4 linked regions of the Homo sapiens genome follow. The protein of the gene in region 3 interacts with the protein of the main gene of each other region in a pairwise test. Each region holds a gene or a part of one and is shown on either strand. Other genes may lie near its edges.

What was found.
Region 1: the proteins of HMG20A (region 3) and LURAP1 interact in binary tests that used the Homo sapiens proteins (3 or more experiments, as listed by UniProt).
Region 2: the proteins of HMG20A (region 3) and RPP30 interact in binary tests that used the Homo sapiens proteins (3 or more experiments, as listed by UniProt).
Region 4: the proteins of HMG20A (region 3) and KRT1 interact in binary tests that used the Homo sapiens proteins (3 or more experiments, as listed by UniProt).

The regions. Positions count from the first base shown.
Region 1 is NC_000001.11:46,198,740-46,206,474, forward strand, and holds the start of LURAP1 (leucine rich adaptor protein 1), read left to right. Parts: upstream 1-4,594; 5' UTR 4,595-4,687; coding exon 4,688-4,885; intron 4,886-7,735. UniProt on the Homo sapiens protein: Acts as an activator of the canonical NF-kappa-B pathway and drive the production of pro-inflammatory cytokines. Promotes the antigen (Ag)-presenting and priming function of dendritic cells via the canonical NF-kappa-B pathway.
Region 2 is NC_000010.11:90,895,364-90,902,841, forward strand, and holds the end of RPP30 (ribonuclease P protein subunit p30), read left to right. Parts: intron 1-90; coding exon 91-120; intron 121-516; coding exon 517-554; intron 555-949; coding exon 950-1,029; intron 1,030-5,206; coding exon 5,207-5,316; 3' UTR 5,317-6,828; downstream 6,829-7,478. UniProt on the Homo sapiens protein: Component of ribonuclease P, a ribonucleoprotein complex that generates mature tRNA molecules by cleaving their 5'-ends. Also a component of the MRP ribonuclease complex, which cleaves pre-rRNA sequences.
Region 3 is NC_000015.10:77,465,254-77,473,013, forward strand, and holds part of HMG20A (high mobility group protein 20A), read left to right. Parts: intron 1-1,841; coding exon 1,842-2,054; intron 2,055-5,656; coding exon 5,657-5,789; intron 5,790-6,529; coding exon 6,530-6,561; intron 6,562-7,760. UniProt on the Homo sapiens protein: Plays a role in neuronal differentiation as chromatin-associated protein. Acts as inhibitor of HMG20B. Overcomes the repressive effects of the neuronal silencer REST and induces the activation of neuronal-specific genes.
Region 4 is NC_000012.12:52,677,200-52,685,111, reverse strand, and holds the start of KRT1 (keratin, type II cytoskeletal 1), read left to right. Parts: upstream 1-4,704; 5' UTR 4,705-4,763; coding exon 4,764-5,354; intron 5,355-6,355; coding exon 6,356-6,570; intron 6,571-6,888; coding exon 6,889-6,949; intron 6,950-7,366; coding exon 7,367-7,462; intron 7,463-7,631; coding exon 7,632-7,796; intron 7,797-7,912. UniProt on the Homo sapiens protein: May regulate the activity of kinases such as PKC and SRC via binding to integrin beta-1 (ITB1) and the receptor of activated protein C kinase 1 (RACK1). In complex with C1QBP is a high affinity receptor for kininogen-1/HMWK.

The sequences.
Region 1 (7,735 bases), on a different chromosome or scaffold from region 3:
AGGGGCTGCAACCCTTGGACACAGGGCACACACCACCCGCCCCATACCCGTCCTGGGCAAGGCCGTTACCTAGTCCTGGGGCATGCACAGCTATTGGAGGCCAAGGGAGATTAAAATCCAGGTTCTGTCACTGTTCTAAGCACCTTACTGATGATGTTTAATTCCACAACAACCCCATGAGGTAGGCGCTATTATCATTATTATTGTTTTTTTTTTAATTGAGACGGAGTCTCGCTCTGTCGCCCAGGCTGGAGTGCAGTGGCACCATCTCGGCTCGCTGCAACCTCCGCCTTCTGGGTTCAAGCGATTCTCCTGCCTCAGCCTCCTGAGTAGCTGGGACTACGGTCGTGCGCCACCACACCCAGCTAATTTTTATATTTTTAGTAGAGACGGGGTTTCACCATGTTGGCCAGGCTGGTCTTGAACTTCTGACCTCAAGTGATCCGCCCGCCTTGGCCTCCCAAAGTGCTGGGATTATGGGCAGTGAGCCACCGTGCTGGCTATAGGCGCTATTACTATCCCTGTCGCAGATAAAGAAATAAGACCTAATATCACAAAGCTAGGAGAGGTGGAATTGAAACTCAGCCTAGCTCCAGATTCTGCTCTTAACCACTGCACTCTGCTGGCAACAATACATAAGAATTGCCAGGTTTAAATAACATCATACATAGAAAGCAGTTAGCTTAACACAATGGTTCTCAAACTTTAGCTTGCGTCAGAATCACCTGGATGACTTCTTAAAACAGAGGTGCTGGGCCCCATCCCTAGAGTTTTAGATTCAGTGGTCTGGGGCAGGGTGGGATTTTGCATTCCTGAGAAGTTTCTAGGTGATGTTGATGCTTGTTTGAAGTGGATAGCCATAGAACAGTTTTAGGCAGGGGAGCAATATAATCCAATTTCTGTTTTAAGAGAACCTTTACTTTTTTTGTGGAGAATGGGTTGGAAGCAGACAGAGGAAGCCAGAAGACCAGTTAGATTTTTTTGAGCTTTCTGTATTCCATCTGCTTCCTGAATGGTGGGGTAATATCCCCCAAAATGAAATGTTAACAGTACTTGTCTTAGGAGTTAAAGAAATACATGATTTTTCCTAGTAAGTATGTATAAGAATGGAAGAAAACCCAACACATTTTATTACATTTGAAAAGATGTCCCGGCTGGGCACCATGACTCACGTAATCCCAGCAGGTTGGGAGGCCGAGGTGGGGTGGTCAGTTGAGGTCAGGAGTTTGAGACCAGCCTGCCCAACGCGGTGAAACCCCGTCTCTACTAAAAATACAAAAGTTAGCTGGGCGTGGTGACAGGCGCCTATAATCGTAGCTACTCAGGAGGCTGAAGCAGGAGAATCGCTTGAACCTGGGAGACAGAAGTTGCAGTTGAGATTGCACCACTGCACTCCAGCCTGAGTGACAGAGCAAGACTCCGTCTCAAAAAATAAAAAAATAAAAATAAATAATTAAAAGATGTCCCTCAGGGTTCCTTCCTGACCCTCTTTTCTCCTCAAACTGACTCTTCATGGATGATCTCATTCTCTCATGACCTCTGTTACCAATCTAGATGCCCAAACTGACATTGGCAGTTCTAACCTCTTTCCTGAGCTCCAGGCTGCCTGATGTCCAGCAGGACATCTTCACAGGCCCCTCTAACGCAACAGCACAACTTCTGGAATCATTTCCTTTCACTCCTAGATTTCCTGTGGGTTCCCCTCCTCAGTGAACTGCACCAGGCCAAACAGCTGGGAGTCACCCTTGACTCCTTGTCTGTCTCCAGTGACCAGTCCAGGTATGTCTTGCTCACCATTGTATTCTCTACACCACACACAAAGGCTGGCACATAGTAAGCTCTCCGTAACATTTGTTGAAATCATTCATTTGTATTTTTTAACAAATTTTTATTGAATGCCACTATAAATGAATGTAACCAGTCACCTAGTCCTGTCAGTCTTACCTCCTAAAGAGCCTTCCATTCTAGTCTAATTCTTCTTTGACCTCACAATCAGCCCCAGTGCAGGCCATTTCAGTTTCTTGCTTTCCAGCCAGTCTCCTTGACTCTAGATTTTTACTCCTCCTATCCTTTTCTCCTTGCAAAATCCAGAGTGATTTTCTTTAAGGCAAATGTTGCCGGGTTCGGTGGCTCATGCCTGTAATCCCGGCACTTTGGGAGGCCAAGGCGGGTGGATCACCTGAGGCGGATGGATCCGCCTGGCCAACATGGTGAAACCCCGTCTCTACTAAAAATACAAGAATTAGCTGGGTGTTGTGGCAGGTGCCTGTAATTCCAGTTACTCAGGAGGCTGAGGCAGGAGAATGGCTTGAACCTGGGAGGCAGAAGTTGCAATGAGCCAAGATGGTGCCACTGCACTCCAGCCTGGGCAACAGAGCCGGACTCTGTCTCAAAAAAAAAAGACAAATGTTTTGTCTATCTCTAACTTAAAACCCTTCCATGGATCAAAAAGTACCAAGGAAAATGATGTTACTTAAAATTATAAAGGTAGGCCAGGCATGGTGGCTCATGCCTGTAATCCCAGCACTTTGGGAGGCTAAGGTGGGAGGATTGCTTGAGGCCAGGAGTTCGAGACCAGCCTGGGCAACATAGCGAGACTCTATCTAAATTTTAAAAAAAGTTAATTACAAAGGTAACCTTAGATGAACTAAAAAGAGTGATAGAAATATGTAGTGCCAGGCCGGGCGCAGTGGCTCACACCTGTAATCCCAGCACTTTGGGAGGCTGAGGCAGGCAGATCACGAGGTCAAGAGTTCGAGACCAGCCTGACCAACATGGTGAAACCCCCGTCTCTACTAAAAATACAAAAATTAGTCGGGCATGGTGGCACGTGCCTGTAATCCCAGCTACTCAGGAGGCTGAGGCAGGAGAATCGCTTGAACCCAGGAGGGCAGGTTGCAGTGAGTCAAGATCGTGCCACTGCACTCCAGCCTGGGCGACAGAGTGAGACTCCATCTCAAAAAAAAAAAAAAAAAGAAAAAAGAAAGAAAAGAAAAGAAATATATATTGCCAATGGGGGAAAGGAACTACAGAGTGTGAGTTAAACCCATATATCCATATTTATCTGAATAGGACAATAAACAGCAGATGAATGTTTAAAATTGAGAAGTAGTGTGGCTGGGCATGGTGGCATACTCCTGTAGTCACAGCTGCTTGGGAGGCAGGAGGATTGCTTGAGCCCAGGAGTTTGAGTCCAGCCTGGGCAATGTAGGAAGACCCTGTCTCTAAAAAAGAAAAAATAGTGGTAGGATTTACAATAAGAGGATAGTTACTCCTACCCTACCCTTTCACACCTCTAGGCCCACTCCCAATTGGCAACCACTTTTAGTTAACTCTAAACAATAACGTTATGGGTATGAACACCAAAAGAAAAAAAAAAACTAAAAGTTATTTTTTGCCAATTGGGAGTGGGCCTAGAGGTGTGAAAGGGTAGGGTAGGGGTAACTATCTTCTCATTGTAAATCCTTCTGCAACCATGGGCTGGAATTACTTGAATTAAAAGCCTAAACAAACCAGAGTTTTCATGGCTGTTCATTACCTGTTAAATAAAACCCAAACATCTCAGAACCATTTTCTGTAACCTTGTTACTCAAAGTGTGGTCCCTTATTACTTGAAGTGTGGACCAGCAGCATGGCCATCACCTGGGAGCTTATTAGAAATGCAGGATCTTGGCTGGGCGCAGTGGCTCACACCTGTAATCCCAGCACTTTGGGAGGCCAAGGCAGGCGGATCACTTGAAGTCAGGAGTTCAAGACCAGCCTGGCCAACATGGTGAAACCCTGTCTCTACTAAAAATACAAAAATATTAGCTGGGCATGGTGGCGCATGCCTGTAATCCCAGCTACTCAGGAGGCAGAGGCAGGAGAATTGCTTGAACCCAGGGAGGCAGAGGTTTGTAGTGAGCCAAGATCGCGCCACCACGCTACATCCTGGGCGACAGAGCGAGACTCTGTCTCAAAAAAAAAAAAAAAAAAAAAAAAAAAATGCAGGATCTCAAGCCCCACCCCAGATTTACAAAATCAGAACCTACATTTTAACAAGATCCGCAGATAATTCATACGCACAGTCAAGCTTAAGGAGCATCTTGCTTGTAAGCCCAACGTGGACCTCTTCAGCTTCAGTACTGGTTGCCCTTTTCTACTCCGTTAGCCTGAATTCTAGCCCCTGGGGGGGGGGGGTGGTGTGTGTGTGTGTGTGTGTGTGTGTGTGTGTGTGTGTCTAGCTAAAATCCAGTCATCGTTTTATACCCAATTCCTCTGCTCCAGGAAGACTTCCAAGCCCTCTGCAGCTCTCTGTTACCGCTGTTCCTTAAACTCCCACATCTCTGACTGAAGCTGCTTAGACTTCATTCTGCAAACATGTATTGGGCGCCTGCTGTGTGCCTGGCTGGATTCAGTGCCAGGGTGGGGCGAAGGCGCTGAGGTCTCCGAGTGCTCTTTCAGGTCCAACTCCAGAATCGCCCAGCCCCACGCAATCCAGGGCCAGAGGTTGTGTGCGCAGCACTCGAATACATCCACAGACGGTGCTGCGCGGCTTTTCTGAGTGTTACGGCGCCCTCCTCCCGCCCCCGCGCCGCGCGGGCGGGGACCCACCGGTTTTGCTCCGCTTTAGCAGCGGCGAAGGGAGGACCCCCGGGAGCCGGTCCCCGGCGTCCGGTCGCCCAGCCCTTTTCAGGCTTGGGCCCGCATGGAGGGGACCGTGGAGTCCCAGACGCCTGACCTGCGGGATGTGGAGGGTAAGGTGGGCAGGAAGACCCCTGAAGGGCTGCTCCGCGGGCTGCGAGGCGAGTGTGAGCTGGGAACCTCTGGCGCCCTGCTGCTCCCAGGGGCGTCTAGCACCGGCCACGACTTGGGGGACAAGATCATGGCGCTGAAGATGGAGCTGGTGAGTGCTGAATCCATGGGCCAAGGGGACGAGTCCCTAGTGTAGGGCCGGGAGGGACGAACTCATGCTCCCAGAGTTAAGCTGGAGAGGAGGTAGTTAAAACTCTCCACCTAACTGCTCAGAATCCCTCCCAGATCAATCCGTAAACGCTGGGGTGGAGATGGAGTGACGTCCATTACTTGTCCCCCAAGAGTGAGTGGGGTGTTGATGGTCCTGAGGACTTGGGTTGGGAGCAGTGGGTTTTGGAAGTTATTCCTGCCAAATAATTGGGAGGAGAGAGATGAGGACTGGGAAGTACTGAGAACCCAACGCAGCACAAATTCCCCCCGCCTGTATGGGCCACCTATTCCCCGCCAGTCCCCGTTGTAAGGCAACCGGTTTTTTCTCCTTCTGCTAACCGGGAAAGGGTTTAAGTTCCTGTGAGGCCGCAGTGTTCCGCACAGAAAAGAAGTGGGTAAAGGGGCCTATCTGCTGAAAACTACCTGGACCAGGGGCACTGAAAACCTTCTCCGTTTCCTCTACATCCCCCAGCCCTACTTAAAATAATGGAAAGTTCCTAGACCCATAGCAGGGACAGAGAGTAGCAGCACCACTGGTGCTGATTCCCTCGCCTCAGACTCAGTCTCCTCCCAGCCAGTCTTCCAGGTAAACTGGATATTTGGATCTCATCTGTACATTCTTGGGGAGAAGAGGAAACAGCAACCCTCCCCTTTCTCTATTGCTGCTGGTCTAGATTCAGAGCCAAAAGGGCAGCCGAGGCCCTGGCAGGTTCCCCAGGGCCCTGATTCCGGTGAAGTGGGTGATTTACACCTGCCACTACTTTGCAGCCAGTTCTGGGGAACTGAGGAATTGCCATCGGCTTCCTGGCTCACAACCAGGAGCCCACAGTGAGTACGTCAGCTAAAGTCTTCCTGTGTGCCCAGCCTGTGCCAAGCTGGTCTGTGAAGGAGAAGGGGAAGGAAATCATGGGGGCTCTGAGACCAGCCAGGGCTCCGACGCCTGAGCTGAGAGGCTGGGAAGAGAGTCTGGTGGGTGGAGCAGTCAGGAAAGGCCCCCTGGGAGAAGGACTTGAATGCCAAGTGTGCACTTGGCCTTGAAGGTTGGAGGTGAGTGCCCAATTCTCCAGAGCAAGGCTGTGACTGTACCCACCTAAGCGGGGGCTTGCCTTTGCCTCACTGTACAAACTTTAGCTCAAGGCCTAGTAAGAGCCTATCTAGACTGTCTACTTGCTTTGAAAACTTTCACCCAGTGCATGTGCCAGGCAGCTTGCTGAGCACTTTACATGATGCTCTCTTCATCTCCACAGTAACCCTGTTAAGTGATATTTTATAGATGGAGAAACTGAGGCACAGGGTGGGCATGGTGGCTCACGCCTGTAATCCCAGCACTTTGGGAGGCCGAGGCAGGCAGATCGCTTGAGCCCAGGAGTTTGAGACCAGCCTGGGCAACAAAGCAAGACCCTGTCTCTACAAAAAATACAAAAATTAGATGGGTGTTGTGGTGTGTGCCTGTAGTCCTAGCTACTCTGGAGGCAGAGGCAGGAGGATCACTTGAGCCCAGGAAGAGGAGGTTGCAGTGAGCTGAAATCGCACCACTGCACTCCAGCCTGGGTGACAGAGCTCAGAGCTAGACCCTGTCTCAAAAAAAGAAGGGGAAGAAGGGGAGGAAGGGAGGAAGGGAGGGAGGGAGGAGAAAAGAAAAGAAAACAGAGGCACAGGGAGTTTAATAACTGCCCAACATCACGCAAAAAGCAGGGCCATGATTTGAACCCAGATCATCTGACTGCACTTTGCATCTTTACTTTGAGACCTGCTTTGTGCCAGATAGTCTGAACATTTTATGTCATTGAAATGAGAAAACTGGTCATCATTTCTCCCATCTTACAGATAAAACGTGCTTGCAGATTCTGAACTCACATAGGGAGTCAGTGGAAGAGCCACGCCCAGTCTCTGGCTCTCTTCTCTGCCTTGGTGGAAACTATCTGTAAACTTTAAGGGGCTGCATTTAACTTTTGATTTTGTCTCTCTGTATTCTTGACCCAGCTTGCCTGGGGCCTGAGGCTGCCCGAGAAAGGGCACAAGGGAGGGAGCCTTCTGGGGCCAGAATGAGGAGAGATCCCCATCCTATTTTTTCTCCTTCCTCAGGCCAGGATGTTATTAATATTAATCTCTTCTTGTGCTCTGCCCTGCCTACTGGGTTGCACCCAGGAAGGACAAGGGGTGGGGCAAGGGATTTGCCTTCGGGCTACTGAAGGCAGGACTGGTTCAAGCCCTCTAAGGACTGTCCTTCAATTGTTCCTCTCCCAGCTCTCCTTGCACAAAGGGGGAAGGCCTACCCTTGAGGCCAAGGTCAGTCCTGCCTCTAGGCCTCGTCCCTCCTGCTTTCTTCCTCTACCCTCCATTCAAAGGTTGAGTGAACAAGCCAGACTGGGATATGTGGGAATGGGAAACAGTGGCAACTTCTTCTTAGTTCTCCCACCCAAAGAACTGTTGCTATGACAACCCACCTCCACAGAGGCAGTTTGAGAAAAAGCTTTAGGCAAGGAAGAATGCACGGGTTCAAGTCTTGGCTCTGCTTCTGAAACGTTTTGTGGTCTTGAGCAGCACTCTGTCTCTCTCCTGGCCTCAGTTTTTCCTCCTTTTGGTGGAGGGGGTAGAGGGAGATGGGGACTGTGAAACCAGATGATTGTTAAGAACCTTTATAGTAACAATATTCTGATAGTCCCCGCTCTGGGAGCTCGGACTGGGATTTCCAGGCTTTTACCCTAGGGCCTGATTTATATTGAGCAATGAGGAAACCATACAGGACCCCAGCGCTGGGCAGAGAGTCTGGTATGTAGATGTTAAGGAG
Region 2 (7,478 bases), on a different chromosome or scaffold from region 3:
TGTTAAAATATGATTACTGGCTATTTATATTATGAAACTCCTTTTTTTACATTTATCTAAGATTAATATTAGTCACTTTCTATTTTGTAGAATGTAATTATATCTAGTGCTGCAGAAAGGGTAAGTCTAGCATGAAGTACTTTGTTTTCATCTTTCAGGTTATAAAACTTTTCAGTTTCTAGGGGATAAATTAAAATAGTAAATGAATATTTGTTGCATTTTTTTCTATTTTAACTGCATTTGCTCATTGTAATTGCTAAATAGTAAAATTTATCCCCACTTTCTTTAGGCTTCAACTTTTGTTTATATAATCAGTTTTTCTTTTATACTGTTACAAAATGCCTTTCAAGCTTCTCTTATATTTTCAAAAGCTATGAAACCCATCAAAATTATAAGGACTTAAATTTATGTAATTTTTTTATTTTTGGATACTTAAATTTTCTATTAATTTGCTATAAGTCATTGAAATGTTATAAATAATTTTCTCATATCTACTCTTTGTTCATTTTATTTCAGCCTTTAGAAATAAGAGGGCCATATGACGTGGCAAATCTGTATCCTTTTCTGAGTAAAAAGTTGTTGACATTGTCTTTCAGGAAATTTTGAATTTGAAGTCGTATTATAGTTGAACATGTATTTTTCTCAACCTTTTACTGTAAGTTTACCAATTAATAACTTCAAAAATAAATTATATAACATTATAGAGAGCTTTATGCTTCTGTTTTTTAATTAATCATGAGATAGAAAAGAGGGAATGAGGGACTTCATATGATAAAAGCTTAGAGTTAAATGAGTCTTTTCTCAGATGCATGTTCCAGTTGGACTAAGAACTGCTGTTGAATTAATTAGCCTCTCAAGATGACCAGGTTAGCTGGCACTTTCTGTTATGTTTGTGTTAGTCTCGTGTCCTTGGGTGACTCTGGGTTGAAATCTTTAATGCTCCCCCAAGAGGCTTGCTGTTTGGGCTCTCTGAAAGTGACGCCAAGGCTGCGGTGTCCACCAACTGCCGAGCAGCGCTTCTCCATGGAGGTAAGCAAGTTCTTCCAGTACAAACTGAATGGTCATGTTAAAAGCAAGTCATTTTTACAGCCATACCTATTTTTATTGCCCTACCCTACAGAGTTCCTTTGGGATCATCTTTTCTCAACCTGTTCTAAACACAGTCATCAGTGTTTTCTCACCCTCACTTCAGGCTTTACTTTCTAAAGTTTGTAGAATGAATATAGTTTTCATTACAGAAATAAGTATTGAATAGTTCTTCCAGCTATACATGTGTGCTCCTGCCGACATTTTGATAGGCTTCTAATCTCCCTTCCTTCTTCTCCCTCACCAGAAGGCCATGCTTTCCCTGTTGAAAATCTCTGTTTTAGAGAACGGATATGTTAAAAATATGTGTTAAACTATTTATTAGGAAAACAAAACCAGCAAATACATTTTTAAAAATCCAACTAACAAAACATAGACTGTAACTTTTACATTTATTATAACTCAGAATGTTTCTTTTCTCATGTTTGCTTACATGGTCAAGTTGTGTCCAGACTGTACCTTTTTTATTTTTTTTTCTTTTTCTAAATAGAGACAGAGTCTCACTATGTTGCCCAGGCTGGTCTTGAACTCCTGGGCTCAAGCAATCCTCCTACCTCAGCCTCCCAAAGTGCTAGGATTACAGACATGAGCCACCATGCCCGGCCAGACTGTACATTTTTTACTCACATTTTGTATATGTACCTTTTCACTGACTGAGTTTCCTGCTCATCAGATGTTAAAAATTGAAAGTATGCTGAAACTTTGGAAAATGAAAGTGAAATTTTATTAAAACAATTTAAGCTTTTGATCACTGTTTTGTCTTCGTTATCTTTATAATTCTTAGGACTAGTTGTAGTGGTTAAGAAGCAATTTCATTGATATCACCCAAGTGAATTTTAAACTTCAAAGTAGATTGCTACATATAGACTGAGTTATTTGTCATATGAATAGCTAGGTTATTGAGGGCTTGTGTGTTGGGCTTTATTGATCTGATTTCCACTTGAGAGAACTGCTTATGTATTGGCTTGCCGTAAATTAGATGATTTTGCTTTTAGTTTCAACATTTTTAGTTTGAGATTTTTGTATTATGTAGCCTAGAACTCATCACATAAGCTTTGGGAGTGGTCAAATTAATGGAGATTTTGAATAATGATTTTCTTGAAATTAGGGAACAGTTGGTTCACACTTTGATAGTTCTGTCATTATTTTGATCTATTTTAAATAAACATTCATCAGGATTTTGAGTAACAGTTGGGGTTCCAAAATGGACTAAACAAGAAACAGAAACTAAAATATAAATACATACATAATTTTATATATAGGAAAATAGGAAGTCCTGCATTTGACTTTAAGAACTCAGCTATTCAGCATATAACACATAATATGTAAAGTATTTTTTTTTAGAATTTCTTTTTGTGGGTACATAGTATGTGTATATATTTATGGGGTACTGAGATATTTTGATATAGGCATGCAATGCATAATAATTACATCATGGAAAATGGGGTGTCCATCCCCTCAAGCATATGTCTTGTGTTATAAACAATCCAATTATGCTTTTTTAGTTATTTTTAAATATACAATTAAATTGTATTGACTATGGTCACCCTCTTGTGCTATCATATACTAGACCTTGTTCATTCTATTTTTTTTGTACCCATTAACCATCTTCACCTCCCTCTCAGCCCCCCACTACCCTTCCCAGCCTCTGGTAACCATCCTTCTACTTTCTGTCTCCAGGAGTTCAGTTGCTTTGATTTTTAGATCCCACAAACAAGTGAGAACATGTGATGTTTGTCTTTCTGTGTCTAAAATCAGGCTTTTATAGAAGCTAAACTTAAAGAAGACTTGTGAACTTTGGGTGGCATTACCATTCACCCCAGTGTACCCAGGACAGTTCTAGTTTATGCCTGCTGTTTCTGTGACCTTATTAGCACTTCTATTCCCTGAAGAGAGTCCTAAACTAGATGATAAAATATGGTTACCCTGGTTTTCGTTGCCATTGGGATCAGTATGAGACGGTAGTATGATGTGTTCTTAAGATTGCTAATTCAGCCTAGGTAATATTAGAAGAAATAAAGGATTCTGAGACAAGGAAATTCAAAGCCTCGTTATTATACTCTCATTGATGAAATCTCAGCCGGCATCTGTATCATTCTGAGTGCCACATTTAAGAAGGACAGCAGTGCACTGAAACACTATTGGAAAATGTCTACTCAGTCCTTAAAGGGTCTGGAAGCCTCATGATGAGAGGAATCACGAGGGTGGTGCAGACATGGATACCTGGCAAGCAGAAGAGTTGGGACACATGGTAGTTAGCTTTCAACTTGGAAGGCTTGCCACAGGAAATCAGAATTAGGTTCTTTGGGGGTCCAGAAATCTAGAAACCAATGAATAGCAATTCTGAGGAGGTTGTGGGGAAAGGACAGAGGAAAGAGGCCCAAGGTCAGGGTCTTTGGCCTGTGATTGATAAAGTTCATGCCCTCAATCAGCCCCTGGACCAAAATGAACCTGTTGGGGACACCTGCCTTAGCCCCTTGTGAACAAAATTATTCACTCGTAGATAATCCTTTAGATTTTCCTTGGCAAGATGATTAAAGGAAATACTATATGTGAAAACATTTTATAAACTAAAGCATACACAAATGTAACGTCTTGCTGTTACCAAGAAATGCATTTATTTTTAAAAGACACTAAAGAAATTAATGCATTTTGTTAAAAAGTGCTGATTTTCATAATGTTTATATTTCAGTTGATTTTTAGACTATGGGTACAGAATCAGTGACATAAATTAATAGCTATAAGTGTGACGTTTTTCATTTGGTGAAATGGAAATCATTGACAGTTTTTATTTTGAGGTTCTTATTATGTTGGCATTTTAATGACCTTGAGAGCAGTTTTATCCCTTTTACAAATAAAAGTGTTTTAAAATAATTGGCAGAGTAGATTTACTAAGTTAATCTTGATAAATGGGAAAATAATGCTTAACACTTTATGGTTGACTTTACGTTTATTACTTGAAATAAGGAATAATTCATAGCTAAATTTCTGTTCAAGTTCTTTTGATTCTGCCACCTTTGTAGCTAATGGGTATCTCTCTCTTTCTCCATAATCCCTTTCCATTTCTAAGGACAGAGTTTGGGTCTGTTTTCATGACACTATGGCCTTTCATAAGTTACCCTTCCAAACTCTATTTTCTCCTAATTTTTTTGTATTCCTACTTCACATCAGCCATATTGTCCCCTAAACTATTTTACCTAGGTTCTTCTTATCTTTCTCTCCATGCCTTTGTAAAGGAATATTTCTCTTTTTCTTACTCCGTTTACCCTATTCTGAGTAGTGTCACCTTTATATAATACCTCATTGCTTTAACCAGGCAGTTAATTCTTGTGGATGCCTCCATTCCTATTATATTTGCTCTTATTGTGCTTCTCGCATGCATGTAGTATAGGGAAAAGCACTGTCTGTTAGGAATCTTAATACCCTCTGTATGGACACAGTGCCTAGCCTATTAGTAGGTTTCTAGGAAAAATTGGTTAAATTTAAGTTGAACTCTGCTGCCAGCCTAATCTAAGCATTTAATAATTTCTATTTATTCTTTGTTCATTGTCACCAGTTAAAGAGATCAATAAATTTATGAGTGATTTTATTCATTAACTCAACTAGTATTTACTGAACACATTTTGCATAACCAGGCCATTGTTGAGTGTTGGCAATATAATGCAATTGATTCTTCAGAGGTACCTTGATGTTCTAATAAGAGAGATAGGGTACATGCTGTAAAATGAGGCAAGCATGTGCTCCACATGGGAGCCATACACTTGATTGCTGTGTTTGCTCTCTTGATTTGTCTGTCTACCATATATAAAGTGTCTGCTACATCAATGTCTGTGACTGGGTTCTGGCTACATAAGATGCCATGGACAGACCATTAGAGATAACACTGTCCTGCAGTTTTACCCATGAGGTAATCTTTAGGAATGAATTAGATGTTAATAATATACTGATATTTGTGTCTGTTGGGAAAAAAAGATAATGACGGTAAATGGCACTAGCAGCCATAGCAGTTCATTATGGCTTATCATTTGCTATTGCTGTAAGCCAAAGTAATATGTTAAACCACCTCATTTTAAATTATGTCTTAACTTCAAGCACAGTGGTTTCCCTGTTTGTTTTACAGAAACTAGAAAAACTGCTTTTGGAATTATCTCTACAGTGAAGAAACCTCGGCCATCAGAAGGAGATGAAGATTGTCTTCCAGCTTCCAAGAAAGCCAAGTGTGAGGGCTGAAAAGAATGCCCCAGTCTCTGTCAGCACTCCCTTCTTCCCTTTTATAGTTCATCAGCCACAACAAAAATAAAACCTTTGTGTGATTTACTGTTTTCATTTGGAGCTAGAAATCAATAGTCTATAAAAACAGTTTTACTTGCAATCCATTAAAACAACAAACGAAACCTAGTGAAGCATCTTTTTAAAAGGCTGCCAGCTTAATGAATTTAGATGTACTTTAAGAGAGAAAGACTGGTTATTTCTCCTTTGTGTAAGTGATAAACAACAGCAAATATACTTGAATAAAATGTTTCAGGTATTTTTGTTTCATTTTGTTTTTGAGATAGGGTCTTTGTTGCTCAGGCTGGAGTACAGTGGCATAATCACAGCTCACTGCAACCTCAATCCTGGGCTCAAGTGATCCTCCCGCTTCAGCCTCTCAAGCAGCGGGAACTACAGGTGTGCACTACCACACCTGGCTATTTTTTTTTTTTTTTTTTTTTTCCCTTGTAGAGACATGGTCTCACTATGTTGCTGAGGCTGGTCTCAAACTCCTAGGATCAAGCCATCCTCCCGCTTTGGCCTCCTAAAGTGCTGGGATTACATGAGCCACCACATGCAGCCAGATGTTTGAATATTTTAAGAGCTTCTTTCGAAAGTTTCTTGTTCATACTCAAATAGTAGTTATTTTGAAGATATTCAAACTTATATTGAAGAAGTGACTTTAGTTCCTCTTGTTTTAAGCTTCTTTCATGTATTCAAATCAGCATTTTTTTCTAAGAAATTGCTATAGAATTTGTGGAAGGAGAGAGGATACACATGTAAAATTACATCTGGTCTCTTCCTTCACTGCTTCATGCCTACGTAAGGTCTTTGAAATAGGATTCCTTACTTTTAGTTAGAAACCCCTAAAACGCTAATATTGATTTTCCTGATAGCTGTATTAAAAATAGCAAAGCATCGGACTGAACCAACTTTGGAAATAATTTATTTTTATAATGGGATCATGTTAAGTAGAAGTAGCTTTTTATGCAAATACATGCATTTATGCAATATTAATGTAAGGGCTCTAAAACAATGGAGTAGAGCCAGAGGTATAACTGAATAAGAAATTTTTTTAAGCAAGAGAAAGACAACTGTTCTGCGGGTTGGAGAAAATACAATTTTTTTTTTTTTTTTTGAGACAGTCTCGCTCTGTCCCCCAGGCTGGAGTGCAGTGGCTCGATCTCTGCTCACTGCAAGCTCCGCCTCCTGGGTTCATGCCATTCTCCTGCCTCAGCCTCCTGAGTAGCTGGGACTACAGGCGCTCGCCATGTATTTAGCAGAGACGGGGTTTCACCGTGTTAGCCAGGATGGTCTCAATCTCCTGACCTCATATTCCACCCGCCTCGGCCTCCCAAAGTGCTGGGATTACAGGCGTTAGCCACTGCGCCCGGCCCGAGAAAATACAGTTTTAAAAAGAGAAAGCTTTATAACCTCACCAATGAATACAAATGTTTAAATAAAATATTGATTAAAAAAACATTAAAAGTGCATCATGACCAGGTGAAATTTATTCTTTTTTTCTTCTTCTTTTTGAGACAGGGTCTCACTCTGTCACCCAGGCTGGAGTGCAGTGGCACAATCTCGGCTCACTGCAACCTTTGCCTCTTGGGCTCAAGCCATCCTCCCACCTCAGCCTCCCAAGTAAGTGGGACCAGAAGCATGCACCACCACATCCCAGCTAATTTTTGTATTTTTTTGTAGAGATGGGGTTTTGCCATGTCCAGGCTAGTCTCAAACTCCTGGCAGATTCAAGCAGTCTGTCCGCCTCAGCATCCCAAAGTGCTGGGATTACAGGCACAGGCATGAGCCACCATACCCGGCCTTCCAGTTCTTTTTAATGCAGTATCCTTTATCATATTCATAGGTCAAAAGAGAAAAATCAGAATATTTTTAATAGATGCCAGAAAGACATTTAATAAAGTTAAATCCACTCCTGATTTTTAAAATGACAACAATAAAAACCCATGGCAAAATTAAAGTAGAATAATATTGTATGCATACATATATATGTTCATATGTGTCTGTTTTTTGTGTATATTAAATGTGATGGCTCCAAAAGCATTTTTGACTACCGCTTGGCCAATTTGATGGATTAACCTACTCATTCCTTCTGTAAAACTGAGGCTGGTGCTGCTGAG
Region 3 (7,760 bases):
TCGTCTCAAAAAAAAAAAAAAAAAAAAAAAAAGAAAGAAAAAAACAACTAATTTTTTTTTATCTATCCTATTGGCATTTTTAAAGATTATAATGAATGCTTAAAGTTTCTTAAATACCTTGAAATTAAATTGTTCTGTTGTTTTTTGTTTTTTTTTTTTTGAGGTGGAGTCTTATTCTGTTGCTCAGGCTGGAGTGCGGTGGCACAATTTCAGCTCACTGCAACCTCTGCCTCCCAGGTTCAAGCTATTCTCCTGCCCCAGCTTCCCAAGTATCTGGGATTACAGGCACATGCCATCATGCCCAGGCAATTTTGTATTTTCAGTGGAGATGGAGTTTCTCCGTGTTGACCAGGCTGGTCTCGAAATTCTGACCTCAAGTGATCCGCCTGCCTTGGCCCTCCAAAGTGCTGGGATTACAGGTGTGAACCACCGTGCCAGCCCACAGTAGCTTTAATGTAACTAGGTTTAAAAAAAGAAAAACCTAATACCAAATACATAATTTGCCCAGTGGTGAATTATACCATTTTATATATATTTGGAGGAGTAGAGTACTACAATTAGTATTTAGATATTTTTGTCCTTGTTTATTTATATTTCTCTTGTCTGAAATAAGAATTCTTGTATCCATGAAATATTAACTGATACGGCTGTATTTGTAAAATTATGAAGTAAAAATATTATGTACCTTACATCTTATTTAAAGGGCCAAGAAGAAAGGCTGTGGTGAAACATCAGTGGTACCTCAGTCCTTTTCATTTCTTTAGTTTTTTTCAGAGGTGATTCAATCTTTTGATTTACCTGGTAACTCAACATATAAAGACCTCTGACTATAAAATGTACATCTAGGCCGGGTGCAGTGGATCACGCCTATAATCCCAGCACTTTGGGAGGCTGAGGCTGGTGGATCACCTGAGGTCAGGAGTTCGAGACCAGCCTGATCAACATGGCAAAACCCCATCTCTACTGAAAATACAAAAATTAGCTGGGTGTGGTGGCACATGCCTGTAATCCCAGCTACTTGGAAGACTAAGGCAGGAGAATCACTTGAACCTGGGAGGCGGAGGTTGCGGTGAGCCGAGATAGCGCCATTGCACTACAGCCTGGGCAAGAAGAGCAAAACTCTACCTCAAAAAAAAAATTAAAATAAAATGTACATCTAAAGGAACAAATTGTCAAGCCAAAGAGCTCGTCTTCATTTCAGATATATTATACTTACTAAAATTTTTCTGAGACTTAGATATTAATTTAGTATCTATCTGCTATGCTATGCTATCTGCTATCTGCTATGGGAAATAAGCTAGTCTTTGAAAGTTATCAATGAGCAACTCCCATTGTGAGTTATTTTTAATTTCTGCTACAACTTGTTTCTTCTTTTGCCTGGTGCACGTGACACCATCTTACTCTAATCTGACAATGTCTGCCTCCCTGCCACAATGCTGCATGTGCTGCTGTATTTCCCATTTGGATACTCTCCTGTCAGGAATCAGGACCTGACAGTTGTCTGTGGGACAGTCATATGCATATGAAGGTCAAAGCTGAGTGATCATGGCACCTCTTATTCTCATACATTGAGATTAGCACAAAAATAGCCCTTTAGTGTAACATTTTGTAGTGTGATACATAAAAGAGGTTGCAAGTGAAGCATCTGGAGTTCCTCAAAAATTGCATTGCTGTCATTTGTATATTACCTACAACAGATGTGGAGAGCTTTGAATATCCAGGGCCAAATTGCAACTCTTAATCCTGTTTTGTTTGTTGTTGTTTGTTTTTGTTGTTGTTGGGTTATTTTGGGAGATGGTTGTTGTTTGGTTTTTGGTTTTTTATTTTGTTTTGTTTTGTAGCAACGAAGTAAACGAGGAGGTTGGTCCAAAGGAAGAAAGAGGAAGAAACCTCTTCGAGACAGCAATGCACCCAAATCCCCCCTTACAGGATATGTTCGGTTCATGAATGAGCGTCGAGAACAACTTCGAGCAAAGAGACCAGAAGTCCCATTTCCAGAAATCACAAGGATGTTAGGCAATGAATGGAGTAAACTGCCTCCTGAGGAAAAACAGGTAATTGTTCCTATTCCTGACTCTTTGTTTGGTTTTGATTATATCTCAGAAATAACTTATATAAGAAAAGCAAAGAGGATGGACAGTTGATTCTGCAGTTTTGTCACAGTGCCTAGGAGACCAGAATAGCAGGGTCCATCATAGCAATTTTCTCTAGCCTAGTGATTTTTAAACTATTTGCTAGAGGGGTGTGAGCAGGGAAGGAGTCTAGGACTCCCCTCAACCAAAGCAACACCACTTTTTATACGCTGAGTTCACATAAGATTGTTTTAAGTGGTTCAGTATTAAGAAATCTGTCAATAAAATGTATTCCACTGAGTTAAATGAAAAGTCGTGAATTAAATGAGAAAAAGTCACTTGACACAATTCTGCAGTTCACATAAGATTTTTAAGAAAAAATGTTACTGCTTTAATACTTTTTTTAACTAGAGTTCTGGCAAATTAACCTACTATTGAAAATAAAGCAAGAACAACTTGAATTCTTTCTCCTCTAAGACAGAAACTAACCTGATGGGCAAACTGAAATGAATCCGTTCATTAGAGAGATTTGAAAGGAATTAAGGACAAGATAGCCATGAGCTGGTTGAAGTACCACTAAAGCTGAGCAGTGGTCATGGTTGTGGGAGCTGCTTTGGGTTAAAAGTTCCCAGCATTCCCAGCATCTGAAAGATATCTGTATTTCTTTTACGTCTTAAACTCTTTTATGACTTACACTTTTTAAAAAGGATTCCAGACACACTAAAACCAAATGGAGAAATACTCTCCTGGGAATTAATTGAATTCAGAAATTTTCAAAGAGATCAGATTCAGTTGCAACTTTTGAAGCTCTGTGTTTGTGGTAGCAAGCTAGTAGAAAGCAGTGAATATCATCCATTGTTTTGGCGCTACTGTATAAAAGGATAGTGGGCTGTACATACTATGCTATTCTTTTCTTTTTTTTCTTTATTTTAAAATTAATATGTGCTCATTATTCTCTTTTCAGAGAATACAGAAATGTATAAACAAAAATGTAAAAATAACAGTGCTTATTTCTTGGGATAACCACTATTACGTAGGACAAAGGTTTTGTGTTTGTTTTTGTTTTTTTAACTTTTTTTGGAAATAATTTCAAATACACAAAAAGTTACAAACATAAAAATAATACAAAGAACATCCCAACACTCTTTACCCAGATTCACCTATTGTTAACACATTTTATTCCATTTCTCCATTTGCATATGCACTTATATGCTCAGTCTTTCTTATACTTTTGCATGCTCAGTCTTTCTCTCTCTCTCTCTCTCTCTCTGTCACACACACACACACACACACACACACACTTGCATGTGTACACCCAGACACACACAAAATTTTGTTTTAATCATGTGAGGATAAATTATATACATTGTAGCCCTTTACCCCCAGGATATTTCAGTGTGTATGTCAAAGAATATTTTCTTATATAACCATAGTGTAGTCATCAATTTCATAATTTTTCATTAACAGTGCTTTAATCTGTCATCTATATGTTGACTGAATGTCATTTCTTTATAACATTTTTCCCTTCCAAAACAGGTTCCAGTCTAGGGTCAGGTTTTGTGTTTAGTAGTCAAGTTTCTTTAGCTTAAACTGGGATATTTCCATAATCTTTCTTTTTCTTTTATAACATTGATATTTTTTTAAAATACAGTTCCCTTCTGCTTCCCCCGCTGCTTTTACCTTTAACAGAACATTGCTCATTGTGTATTTTTCAGATGTTTCCTTGTGATTAGATTGAGGTTGCGCATTCTTGGTGGGATTACTTGCATAGGTGGTGGTGTGTTCTCAATATGTCACATATGCAGGCACACAATGTCCTTTTGTTTCTCACTAGTAATGTTAATTTTGCTTACCTGGTACATTATTTAAATTCTCCTTTGTCATTAATAAGTAATCTATGGGGAGACGATTTAAGAACATACAAACAGCCTGTTTTACATCAACATTTTCCCCTAGATTTAGCATCCATTGATTATTTTTGCCTGATTTAATCTTTATCATTATGGTTACAACGTGATGATTTTTCCAACTCCAGCACTCCCTTTACATTTACCAGGTAGCCTTCAGCATTCTAATCTAAGCAAGATCTTGGCTTACTGCAACCTTGACCTCCTGGTCTCAAGCACCCCTCCCACCTTAGCCTCCTAAGTAGCACACACCACCAAAACTGGCTAATTATTTTATGTTTTGTAGAGATGGGATCTCACTTTGTTGCCTAGGCTGGACTCAAACATCTGGGCTCAAGCAGTCCTCCTCTTGCCTTGGCCTCCCAACATCCTGTGATTACAGATATGAGCCACCATGCCCGACCCCCTACCCCCATTTATTTATTTGTTTGTTTGTTTGTTTGTTTGTTTTTTGAGATGGAATCTTGCTCTGTCGCCCAAACTGGAGTGCGGTGGCACACTCTCGGCTCATTGCAACCTCCACCTCCCAGGTTCAAGCGATTCTCTAGCCTCAGCTTCCCAAGTAGCTGGGACTACAGGCGTGCACCATCACACCCAGCTAATTTTTGTATTTTTAGTAGAGATGGGGTTTCAGCATGTTGACCAGTGTGGTCTTGAACTCCTGACCTCAAGTGATCCACCCACCTCGGTCTCCCAAAATGTTGGGATTACGTGCGTGAGCCACCACGCTCAGCCTCTACACCCATTTATTGTATTTGTATGGTAACAAATCATTGGTATTGTGTCTGTTATAAATCATACTAATAATAGTATGAAGTTTTTTCTACTAGTTTATAATTTATTACTGTACTTAATTATTTTGGTGCTTAAATTGTACCAGATTTGGCCAGTTGAGTATCCCCTACATCTGGCTCTTACGCGGGACAAAGTGTTTAACATAATTTCTGAGTGTGTTTTCTGTTCATTTAGAAGCAGTATTTTTATACTTTCTTATACTTCATTTTGATGAATGAAAAGGGCAAAGCATTAAACAAAATAATCCTGGTAGATCAATGAACTTTGTTTAAATAATTAATAGCACAAAGCAATCAAAGCATGTAGATATAGGTTCTCTCAGAGTAGTCCATTTTTAGGTCCATAGGATGAGGTCATTATTTTTATGTTCTTTGTGTCTCCCAGCTTCATTGCTCCAACCTCCTGGCTCTTAAAGGGCCAATTGATGTATGACATCATCCCCTCAAAATGGGCTGGAGACAGCAAAACAAAGTAATATTCTGTTCCTTCCCTTGGGAAGACTAAGTGTGCCTATGTGGTGTGCACATCTCATGAGGATGACTCTAGTGGCCATATAGAGTTCTATCTATAGAGTTAGAAGAATAACTCTAATCATCTTCATGAATTTTTTATAAGAATGATCTCAATAGAACTTGTCTTCATTAGGTTAGAAAAGGCAATAAATATTCTAAAAACTCATAATGACCTATTTACTTTTATAATTGAGAGGTTATATTTTATTCTATTCATACAACTCTTGTTTTTCTGATTCTTTTTTAAGGCATATTCCCTATATTCTTTTCTTCCCATGTTCTAATTGTCCTGTTTTCTTCAAATAGGTAATTTAATTTTATTTAAATAGGATCTCATTTTCTTGAAAATAATTCTGTATTTCTTTCCTAGCGCTACCTTGATGAAGCAGACAGAGATAAGGAGCGTTACATGAAGGAACTGGAACAGTATCAGAAAACAGAGGCCTACAAGGTCTTCAGTAGGAAAACCCAGGACCGTCAGAAAGGCAAATCTCATAGGCAAGGTATCAAAACCAGAACCAAATGTATTTGTAGTTTGTTGTGGGTGATGGAGTGTCATAAAGCCAACTGTTAAGAGTGGTAACTATAAAAGATGTGTTTCTGTTTTTTCTCCACTATCCAGTATTCACTTACAAGCATTATCTTGAAATTTTATTAAAATCACATTGCTCTCATTTAGAAATTTCAACTGGGTTTCCGTGTCTATTATCAATGATTTTGACTTGTCCTCCGAGACCCCTGTTAGTTGCCTGCCCTTCTTTTCCTGATTCCCAGTTTAGGCATTTCTCTGCCTGTAAGCAAGCCTATCTACAAAATTATATCAGTAACTTCCCTTTAACACTTCTAAGCCTTTCATGTGTCATTTTTGAAGCACCATCCACAACTAGCCTATTTTTCCTTAGCCATTGCATCTTCTCTATACTTGGGCATCTAGCCTGCTAAAATTATAGATGTTGTATAAGTAGTCTTTGGTTTGTGTCTTCTGTCCACTCTTCCACCCTTTTCTCCCTAAAGTTAAGAACTGTGTCTGCTGTTTCTCTTATGCCTAATTATGAATTCTGTAGGCATGGGGTTCCCTTACTTTTGTTGGCTGACCGATTAATAAAGCCTTAAGGAAAAATATCATATGTTATGAGAATCTACATATACAAGCAGGTTTTATAGTTTGGCAGAGTCGTATACTTGGGTTTTGTTATTGCTTTCTTTTTAAATGTAATGTTCTCTTATTCTTTTATATTTTTAGATGCAGCCCGGCAGGCCACTCATGATCATGAGGTAATTAGCCATCTGTCTACATATCATATATATGTATTTATAATAATGTTGCTTTTTGAAATGCTATTGGATTTTTTTTTTTTTAATGAATGGCAAAGTATTTCCTATCTCGTAATTCAGATTAAATGAGATACTTTAGCTTGGGGGTTCTTAGCATATGGCAGACACTTACGTTGTGTGTCTGTCATTGAACTACAGCCCCTAACCTCAATCCTTTCCTGTGATCTGAGAATTTTATTGGCTTTAAATGCCAAAGATGGCTGGAATTTGGAATGAAGTATAGAAATGAGGGCTAGCTGAAAGCTATAACATGACCATAGTTTATCATCACCAAATACTTAAATCTGACTCTCAGAAAAGTTGTTATTTAAAGAATCCAGCATTTGCTTAAAGCGAACTGTTCAACTACAATGTCGATAGAGCACAAGCGACAGTATCTCAGGTTTGTTTTTTGTTTTGTTTTGTTTTTTGTTTTTTTGAGATAGAGTCTCACTCTGTCGCCCAGGCTGGAGTGCAGTGGCACAATCTCAGCCCACTGCAACCTCCGCCTCCCGGGTTCAAGCAATTCTCCTGCCTCAGCCTCCCGAGTAGCTGGGACTACAGGCTCGTGCCATCATACCCGGCTAATTTTCTGTATTTTTAGTAGAGACAGGGTTTCATCATATGAGCCAGGATGGTCTCGATCTCCTGACCTCATGATCCACCCGCCTTGGCCTCCCAAAATGCTGGGATTACAGGCGTGAGCCACCACGCCCGGCCCAGTATCTCAGTTCTCACACCTCCTTTCCTATTCCCTCACTTCACTAGCACATGTTTGTGTACTGGCTTCTTTCCTCCCACTTGGTTCAGCCCCATTGTTAGGATTTAGGCCTGTGTTTCTGTGTGTGTATGGGATTTAGGTGTGTGTGTTGTTTCAAATTCTGTTTTCTCCTTCAAACTTTTCTTGTTTCCTCTAACTTCCTTTAACCCTCATGGCTCTCTATACTTGTGTTATGTGCTTAGCTGATCTGACCTAGGGGTTTTGAGGTAATTCAAGGGCTCACACTCTTTGGTTGTAATGTCTTTGTGGACATACACAGTCTAGTTTCCATCTTTATATCCAACCCCATACCACCTATCATGATACCTTTGCCTTGAGAAGGTATTCCACAAATGATTATTTTATGGAATCTATTCAAAGTTGACCTGAAATAACTGAG
Region 4 (7,912 bases), on a different chromosome or scaffold from region 3:
CTGGTCTCGTGATCCGCCCACCTCTACCTCCCAAAGTGCTGGGATTACAGGCGTGAGCCGCCACGCCTGGCTCCTTTTTTCTTTATCTATACTCTACTATGCTTCAGTTTCCCTGGAAGGTACATAGAGCCTCCTTTTTACAGAGGAAGGAAACTTAGGCTCAGAGAGGGTCAGTGACCTGCCTAGAGCAGTGCAGAATCAGGAGCGGAGCCCAGGCCTGGCAGCCTCCATGGCACAGAGCAAGATGGGCCCCACCGCCTCTCTCCTCCATGTTCATCTTTGGTTTCCTCCTTCCTGGCCTCTGCTCTGCTCCAGCCTTGCTAGTGAGTGACTCCTGAGGACCTCCTTCTTTGCTGTCCATCCTAAATAGGGCTGCCCCTCTGTCTGCAGCTCTCCCTCCTGCATAAGAAGCCTTGGCCCCTCCTCTGCTGCCTGGCTGCTTTCAACATCTCGCCCCGCCTCCCCATTGTCTGTGATTTCTCTTCACTCCACCCAGGCCTCAATTTTCCTCACTCCCCTGGGATTTCCCTGTCCCATGTCCCTGGTGGAGTCCCTCAGGGCTGGGTGGCTTGTCACTGCATGTCTTTCTTCACTCTTTTCTTGGTCCCATCCCACAAAAGCTCTCAAAACATCACCACACCTGCTCCTGCCCATGCCCCACAGCCAGCCCCTGGCAGCCTCATCTCAATGATCAGTTCTGGGTTGTGTGTGTGAGTCCTTGGGTGGGGGTGTTTTGGTGCTCTGTCATCCAGCACCGCTGGGGTAACTCTCAAGTATAAGGGGCCATGTGGGATGCTGGGAGGACATCAAAAGACACAGGGGACTTAGTCTTGCTTTCCAAAGGCTTCCAGAGTGATTGAGGGGCCAGGAAACACACAAGCACATGCATGAAAATGAGCCAACAAATGCATCAATATGTACTAAGTCTGGCAGCAGCCGAGCTTGGAAAAAGAGACCAATAGAGCACTTGCCCGATGTGGACTGAGGAAAACTCCCTGGAGGAGATGAGATCTGGACCTGTCTGCTGCCTGCTTGAGCGAGAGATGAAGGCATTTGCCCACAAGCCCTGATGGACCAAAAACAGATTCAGGACCAAATGCTCAGGAATTGAGATCTTTGGTGCCCCAGAGCTTGACTATGGGTAGGGATTTGTGGCAAGTTGCCGAGGCAACCAGAAGACCTTTCAGAAAAGAGAAGAGTAGAAGTGGGCTTGGAAGACAGAGAGGAACAGGGATGGAAAGGGAAGAAGAGGGTTGATCAGTCTGGGCAAAGCACGAGAGTGAAGGGGTCAAGGCGTGAGGCCGGGGGAGTGGGTGAGCAGGGTAAGATGTAGGTGGTGCTGGTGGTGAGAGCAGGCCAATGACAGAAGGAGCCCATGTGATGCGGCGGGCTTGGACTCTGGAGTGAGGCAAGCGTGGCTTGTCAGTTACCTGCTGGATGACTTTGGGCACATATTTCAACCTCTATAAACCTAAGATGCCTTTTCTTTAAAATGGGGCTAAGAGCTCCCACGACGCAGACTTTGTGTGGTATTTAAATGCAATGTGGCTCCTAACAGCATAGTTGCTGCCTGTAGATGTTAGTGTCTCTTTCTTTCTCATTTTGTCTTTATTTCATAAATGCACAGTACATAAGTAAGCCAGGAGAGAGTGTGTGGCTCACACCTTTCCTGCATGTGGTTCTTCATATCCCACACACCCACACTGATCCTGGGGACATCACAGGAGATGACGGGCCTGGTCTGGCAGCACTGCAGCTCCAGCTCTGTTGGGCTGCCTCGAAAGTGGGCAGTGGAAAAAGAAAAGGAGTTTGATTCAACAATTGGAAGAGTCTCAGGAATTGACTTATGACTTGGACACTTTTTTTTTTTTTTTTTTTTTTTTTTACTTTTTTGGGCCTGTGCTCTCACTTCTCTGTGAGGCAGGTTAGATGATGTGACCTTTGAGGCCCCATGGATGAGAACATTCTGTAATTCTCTGTGTACTTGTTTATAGGGCCCAGTTCCACTTGCCTGTCTTTGAGCCTCTTCCCGGTTCAGGGAGGAATGTCACTTGAATTGAAATCAGAAAACCCAGATTCTGCTTCCAGATGTGTCTTTTCCTAGCCGGAGTGTCTAGAGGAAGCCACTTAATCTCTGAGAATCAGTTTTCTGTTTCATGAAATGGGTTGAGAACAGCTTGATTGCCTAGTTCTCAGGGCTCTTGTGGGATGCTCTTTGCATATGTGTTTGGTGGGGTGAGCTGTGCAAATGTAAGCTATGGTGAGGTTTATGGCACTTATTCCTGCTAGTCCTGCATTTCTCCCTTCTCACAGGAGCACCTGGGGTATGTTTTGCAGCTAAGTTGTCTACCAATTCCCTGACCATTCATTCAAACCTTTGATTTTTCTGTATGTCAGTTTCTTAGTTCAAAGATGGGAGTGTGGATCACTGCCAAGGTCTGTTTTTGGCTGGCACACACATGCACACAAACATGTGTGCACACAAACATGTGTGCACACACATACTCACACCCCTCCAAAATGCTAGAAGGAATCGATTGTGCAGAACAATATGTCTCATGAGGGAGTATGCTGAACTAAAATAATTTTGATTGCTTGTCAGAAAATGATTAGGCAACAGTCATTACCATGCCAAGACTGTCCCAGTCTCCATTGTTCCTAACAAGACCTGAATTACTCATTCCCTAAAGAGATGGTTGGTTTAGCAGCCGAAGGATTTTAGTGCTAGGACAGAGTCCCAGACAGCAGTGCCACAGTGATGGCGAGGGAGAGGAGTAGCAGGGGAGCGGTGAGGGGCACTTTCTGGAGGAGGGTATAGGGCAAAAACTGGGAGGAGAAGAGGGACAAGGTTCAATAGCGGAGTGCAATGGAGAGGACCGACACAGCCAGCCCGATTCAGAGCCACAGAGTAATGGGACCAGATGATCTTCACAGACTCCCTTTCTCCCATAGATCTTGCACACCATAGTGGAGACTTCCCATGTACATCTATGGTTTGCCACTTACAGAGTTACTTGGAGCCAGCTGAAGTTAGAGCTGGCTTCTCCCCTTTGAGTCTTCAATTCTGTGTTTATGTGCAGGCCCGGGGACCATGCCAGGCTTCTAAGAAGTCTTCGAATGAAAGTCTGCTTGGGCTTCTAGTGTGTCCAGATCTCAGTGCCACTATTATCCACTGATATTGATCAAGTGCTGCTCTCCAGGAAGACCCCTGAGGTTTCCTGGTCCATTGCAATGCATGCTGGGTACTCTTGCACTTGGATGGAAGTAAAATCTCCTCACTAAACTCTGTGCCACCAAAATCTCCTTCTCAGTGTGAATTGAAGAAACATTTTCCAAGACTTGCATGTGCCAGGAGCCAAGGACTCAGAGTGATAAAACAGGCCTTCTGCCCTCAGAGCTCTCTGTGGTGGGGCGCTTCCTGTGCTGTCTGGCTTTACACACAGCAGGCAGAATGACTTGAATTCGGCTGCTGTGCTGTCGTACAACATGCTGTTTAGGATCTTGCACATGATAGCTAGGTATTCTTGCTTCAAATCGCAGGCACCCCACTTACCAACTGTGTAGACTTGATCACGTTATTCAACCCCTGTGTCTCTGCTTCCTCATTTTACAAATGGGGAGAAAAATAGCATCTATCTCAAAGTTGTGAAAATTAAGCAAGTTAATACATATGTGCTACGTAGAACAGTGCCTGGTACATGGTCAGTTTTTGATACATGTTAGGTATTATCATTATTATCACCTCCAGAAACAATTTAAACTTCTCATATAAGGCTCTCCAGACACCTCTCATTGTCTTCCCTTCCAAATCTGCATTTATCTCTCTCTCTTTGCAGTCCAGTGTGAGGCTTGAATCACCTATCAAGCCTCACCTCCACCCCTGTGCTTTACAAAATGTCCTAGAGCTTCTATTTACTCGTCTCACTGCTCTGTGGGCTTTTTCACTCAAGGGCGTTTGCATGCTATCCATTGCTACCTGTTTTCTATTGCTGGTGTCTGTCTCCTGCTCTATCTTTGAAGAAAAGAAACAAGAAAAGGAATAACTGAGAAACAGAGAAAAAAAATGTCTCTCCCTTCTGGTTCTTCCAGACCACCCACTCATCCATCTTGTTCAATGACAGCTTCTCTTCCTTTAATTAATCACTGTGGTATATTTATAAAGCTTATATTTATGAAAGACCTTTTAATTTTTTAGTTATTAAAGCCCTTTCTCTTTGTCAGGTTGTAACTGAGTGAGCTCTGGAGTTTGGAAAGAAGATCTTAGAAATGGGCCAGAGAGCTCCTTCTGAGATCCAAGCACGGGGAATTGCACCTGCTGTGCATGGTAAGAGAGTGTGCTTGGTAGCTCACAAAGGCAAGGTGAGAATAGAAACTTTCATGCCTTTTTGATGGGGGTTATGAAATCCTACCAAGAAACACCAGGTATCAGATGTGGGGTCCTGTTTTCCCAAAGCCACAAATGCTTGAAGGAAGATCTTGTGTGATAAAATAATTACCACATGAACCAATCTTGCATGCACAGCAATTTTGAGAGCCCATCCTGGGAGCTAGGTGTGTAGTGTTTATCGTATTGTTGAGGCTCGTAAAAATCTTGTATGGCTGCAGGCAAGCCAAACCCTTGACAGGCACTGCATCTCCGCTGACTCTAGAAGACCAAGCCCAATTTCTTCCCTGTATATAAGGGGAAGTCTCTATGCTTGGGGTAGAGGAGTGTTTAGCTCCTTCCCTTACTCTACCTTGCTCCTACTTTTCTCTAAGTCAACATGAGTCGACAGTTTAGTTCCAGGTCTGGGTACCGAAGTGGAGGGGGCTTCAGCTCTGGCTCTGCTGGGATCATCAACTACCAGCGCAGGACCACCAGCAGCTCCACACGCCGCAGTGGAGGAGGTGGTGGGAGATTTTCAAGCTGTGGTGGTGGTGGTGGTAGCTTTGGTGCTGGTGGTGGATTTGGAAGTCGGAGTCTTGTTAACCTTGGTGGCAGTAAAAGCATCTCCATAAGTGTGGCTAGAGGAGGTGGACGTGGTAGTGGCTTTGGTGGTGGTTATGGTGGTGGTGGCTTTGGTGGTGGTGGCTTTGGTGGTGGTGGCTTTGGTGGAGGTGGCATTGGGGGTGGTGGCTTTGGTGGTTTTGGCAGTGGTGGTGGTGGTTTTGGTGGAGGTGGCTTTGGGGGTGGTGGATATGGGGGTGGTTATGGTCCTGTCTGCCCTCCTGGTGGCATACAAGAAGTCACTATCAACCAGAGCCTTCTTCAGCCCCTCAATGTGGAGATTGACCCTGAGATCCAAAAGGTGAAGTCTCGAGAAAGGGAGCAAATCAAGTCACTCAACAACCAATTTGCCTCCTTCATTGACAAGGTGAGTTTCTCTCTCATTGCACTGGTAGGGCTGCCGCTGGTCCACTTGGGATTGGTGCAGTCAAAACACAGTAGGTTTGAACCTCAAGTTTCCATGTTTACATGATTAAAAGGATGTTTTGTGGAATGGTCTCCTAGGAGATATGTTAGATGTATGCTTGTGAATGGTGTTAATGACTCTCTCTTTGACAAAGGGTTCGTGGTCGACCTAAAGGTGGGTCAGTGTGACATTAACATTTAAGTGCTTTTTATTCAGCTCTTGAGCGGAATTGGGACTCATATCTGTTGAATGAAGATAATAGAAATGGGGCTAACTGAACTTTCCAGGGTGCAAGTGAGAACCCTGGAAAGGTCTTCCTAACCATAGAAAGGGAGTTGAGTGTGAACATAGTATAGAGTGTTATTGTAGCAGAAAACATGTGGTCAGTCAGTGCCAAACATCTTTTGCTGTCAGAGGGGAGCTCTGCCTTCTAATAATTTTACATTGGTACTGGATGAGGCTAGAGTTTTTTTATACTAATATCTCCAAAAATCAGCTCTAAAAAACTCAGATAAACCATTTTTTTAATTTTTTGCTTAATCATTAATAGTGCCAATCCAAGGTTATCCACAACAAATTTCAAATCCAATTTTGAATTTTCCTGATATACTTTTGAAATGTGTGTGTGTCCTGGGGATGCAAACCAGTTTTTATGGTAATATACCTAACAAAATTTTGGAAGGCAAATCTCTTAAATACCATGCACCTATTTCAAAACATAATTGCAATAATTCTGTATGCGCTTTGCTATTGGTATTTGTTTAGTTACTCCCTTCCAAGCCCTCTCTGAATTAACAAGTTGGGTTTTATTATGCAGATGATATTAACTTGATCATCTTCTTCCTATTTCTCTGTCATGGTCAGAAGATAGGAATTGAGGTTCTTTTCCAAATGAGGCACAGTTCTCCATGGCTATGAGACTCCATTTATGCATCAGGAGTAAAGGGGTCTTGTGTTTTTAGGTGAGGTTCCTGGAGCAGCAGAACCAGGTACTGCAAACAAAATGGGAGCTGCTGCAGCAGGTAGATACCTCCACTAGAACCCATAATTTAGAGCCCTACTTTGAGTCATTCATCAACAATCTCCGAAGGAGAGTGGACCAACTGAAGAGTGATCAATCTCGGTTGGATTCGGAACTGAAGAACATGCAGGACATGGTGGAGGATTACCGGAACAAGTAAGGGACCCTGTCTGGGCAGTTCTTAACTTTTGCTGTAAAAGAGTTCCAGAAAGTAATAAGCTAAGATCATGAAGCAGCATGTAGCTATGTCTTTTCTTAGGTTAGAGGCACATCAGTTTGACATTTTCAGAAATCTTCATTTTCTCAGGAGATGGAAATAGTCTAGTGGTTTTATTGCTCAGTAGAAAGTAGTGGCCAATATGTCCTAGGTTCATAATAGAAAGGCAGTGATAGGCAATGCCACCTTTAGTTTAGAATGCTGGACTTCAGGTCTTACCACCTCTGAATCTCCTAATTGTTTCTGCTTTCCTGCAGGTATGAGGATGAAATCAACAAGCGGACAAATGCAGAGAATGAATTTGTGACCATCAAGAAGGTAAGCAAATTCTGTAGGACGGAACTCACATTTGAAATAAATAAGGGAAGAGGGTCTCCAATTACTAAGCAGAAAGCAGCCATGATATGGAGAGCCAGGTAGTAGACCTGGGGAGTATATGGAGTGGGGCTATATTTTCACATCATCATGGACCTGGACTGATCCAGGCACTTGGCTTCTCCATATTTCCCAGCACCTTACATAGTAAGTGGAGTGGCAGATTCTCAGCAAGCCAGGCACACTCCCTTGATGGTGCTATCCGGGGGTGGGACAGTTAGGGAACTGTGATTTACCTGGGGCAAAAAGGAGTGGAGTAGACCCAAAGCTCCTTTTTTTGCTTGGAGAATCCCCTCACAGGTAATGAGAGGGACCTGCCCTGGAGAGAATGTGCCTTCATGATGTCCCTTGTTCCTCTAGGATGTGGATGGTGCTTATATGACCAAGGTGGACCTTCAGGCCAAACTTGACAACTTGCAGCAGGAAATTGATTTCCTTACAGCACTCTACCAAGCAGTAAGTCTTCCAGTTTCAACCAAGTTTATCTAAATGGAGAGTTTTTAAGCCTGAACCCACAACGATTCAGAAGAATAGATATTTATCTTTTATTTTCTGACTGCTTTCTCTGTCTAAGTTGTTTTTTGTTTTAGTGCTGTAAGAGTCACTAACCTATTATGTCTTGCAGGAGTTGTCTCAGATGCAGACTCAAATCAGTGAAACTAATGTCATCCTCTCTATGGACAACAACCGCAGTCTCGACCTGGACAGCATCATTGCTGAGGTCAAGGCCCAGTACGAGGATATAGCCCAGAAGAGCAAAGCTGAGGCCGAGTCCTTGTACCAGAGCAAGGTGAGTGGGCTGAAAGCCTAGCCAGTTTCCCTGAAATGGCTTGTCTTGCTATCCTGTGTTATCTCATGTATGTGTGCCTGTGCCATGCTGAGTTCTGCCTACATTTAACAAACGCT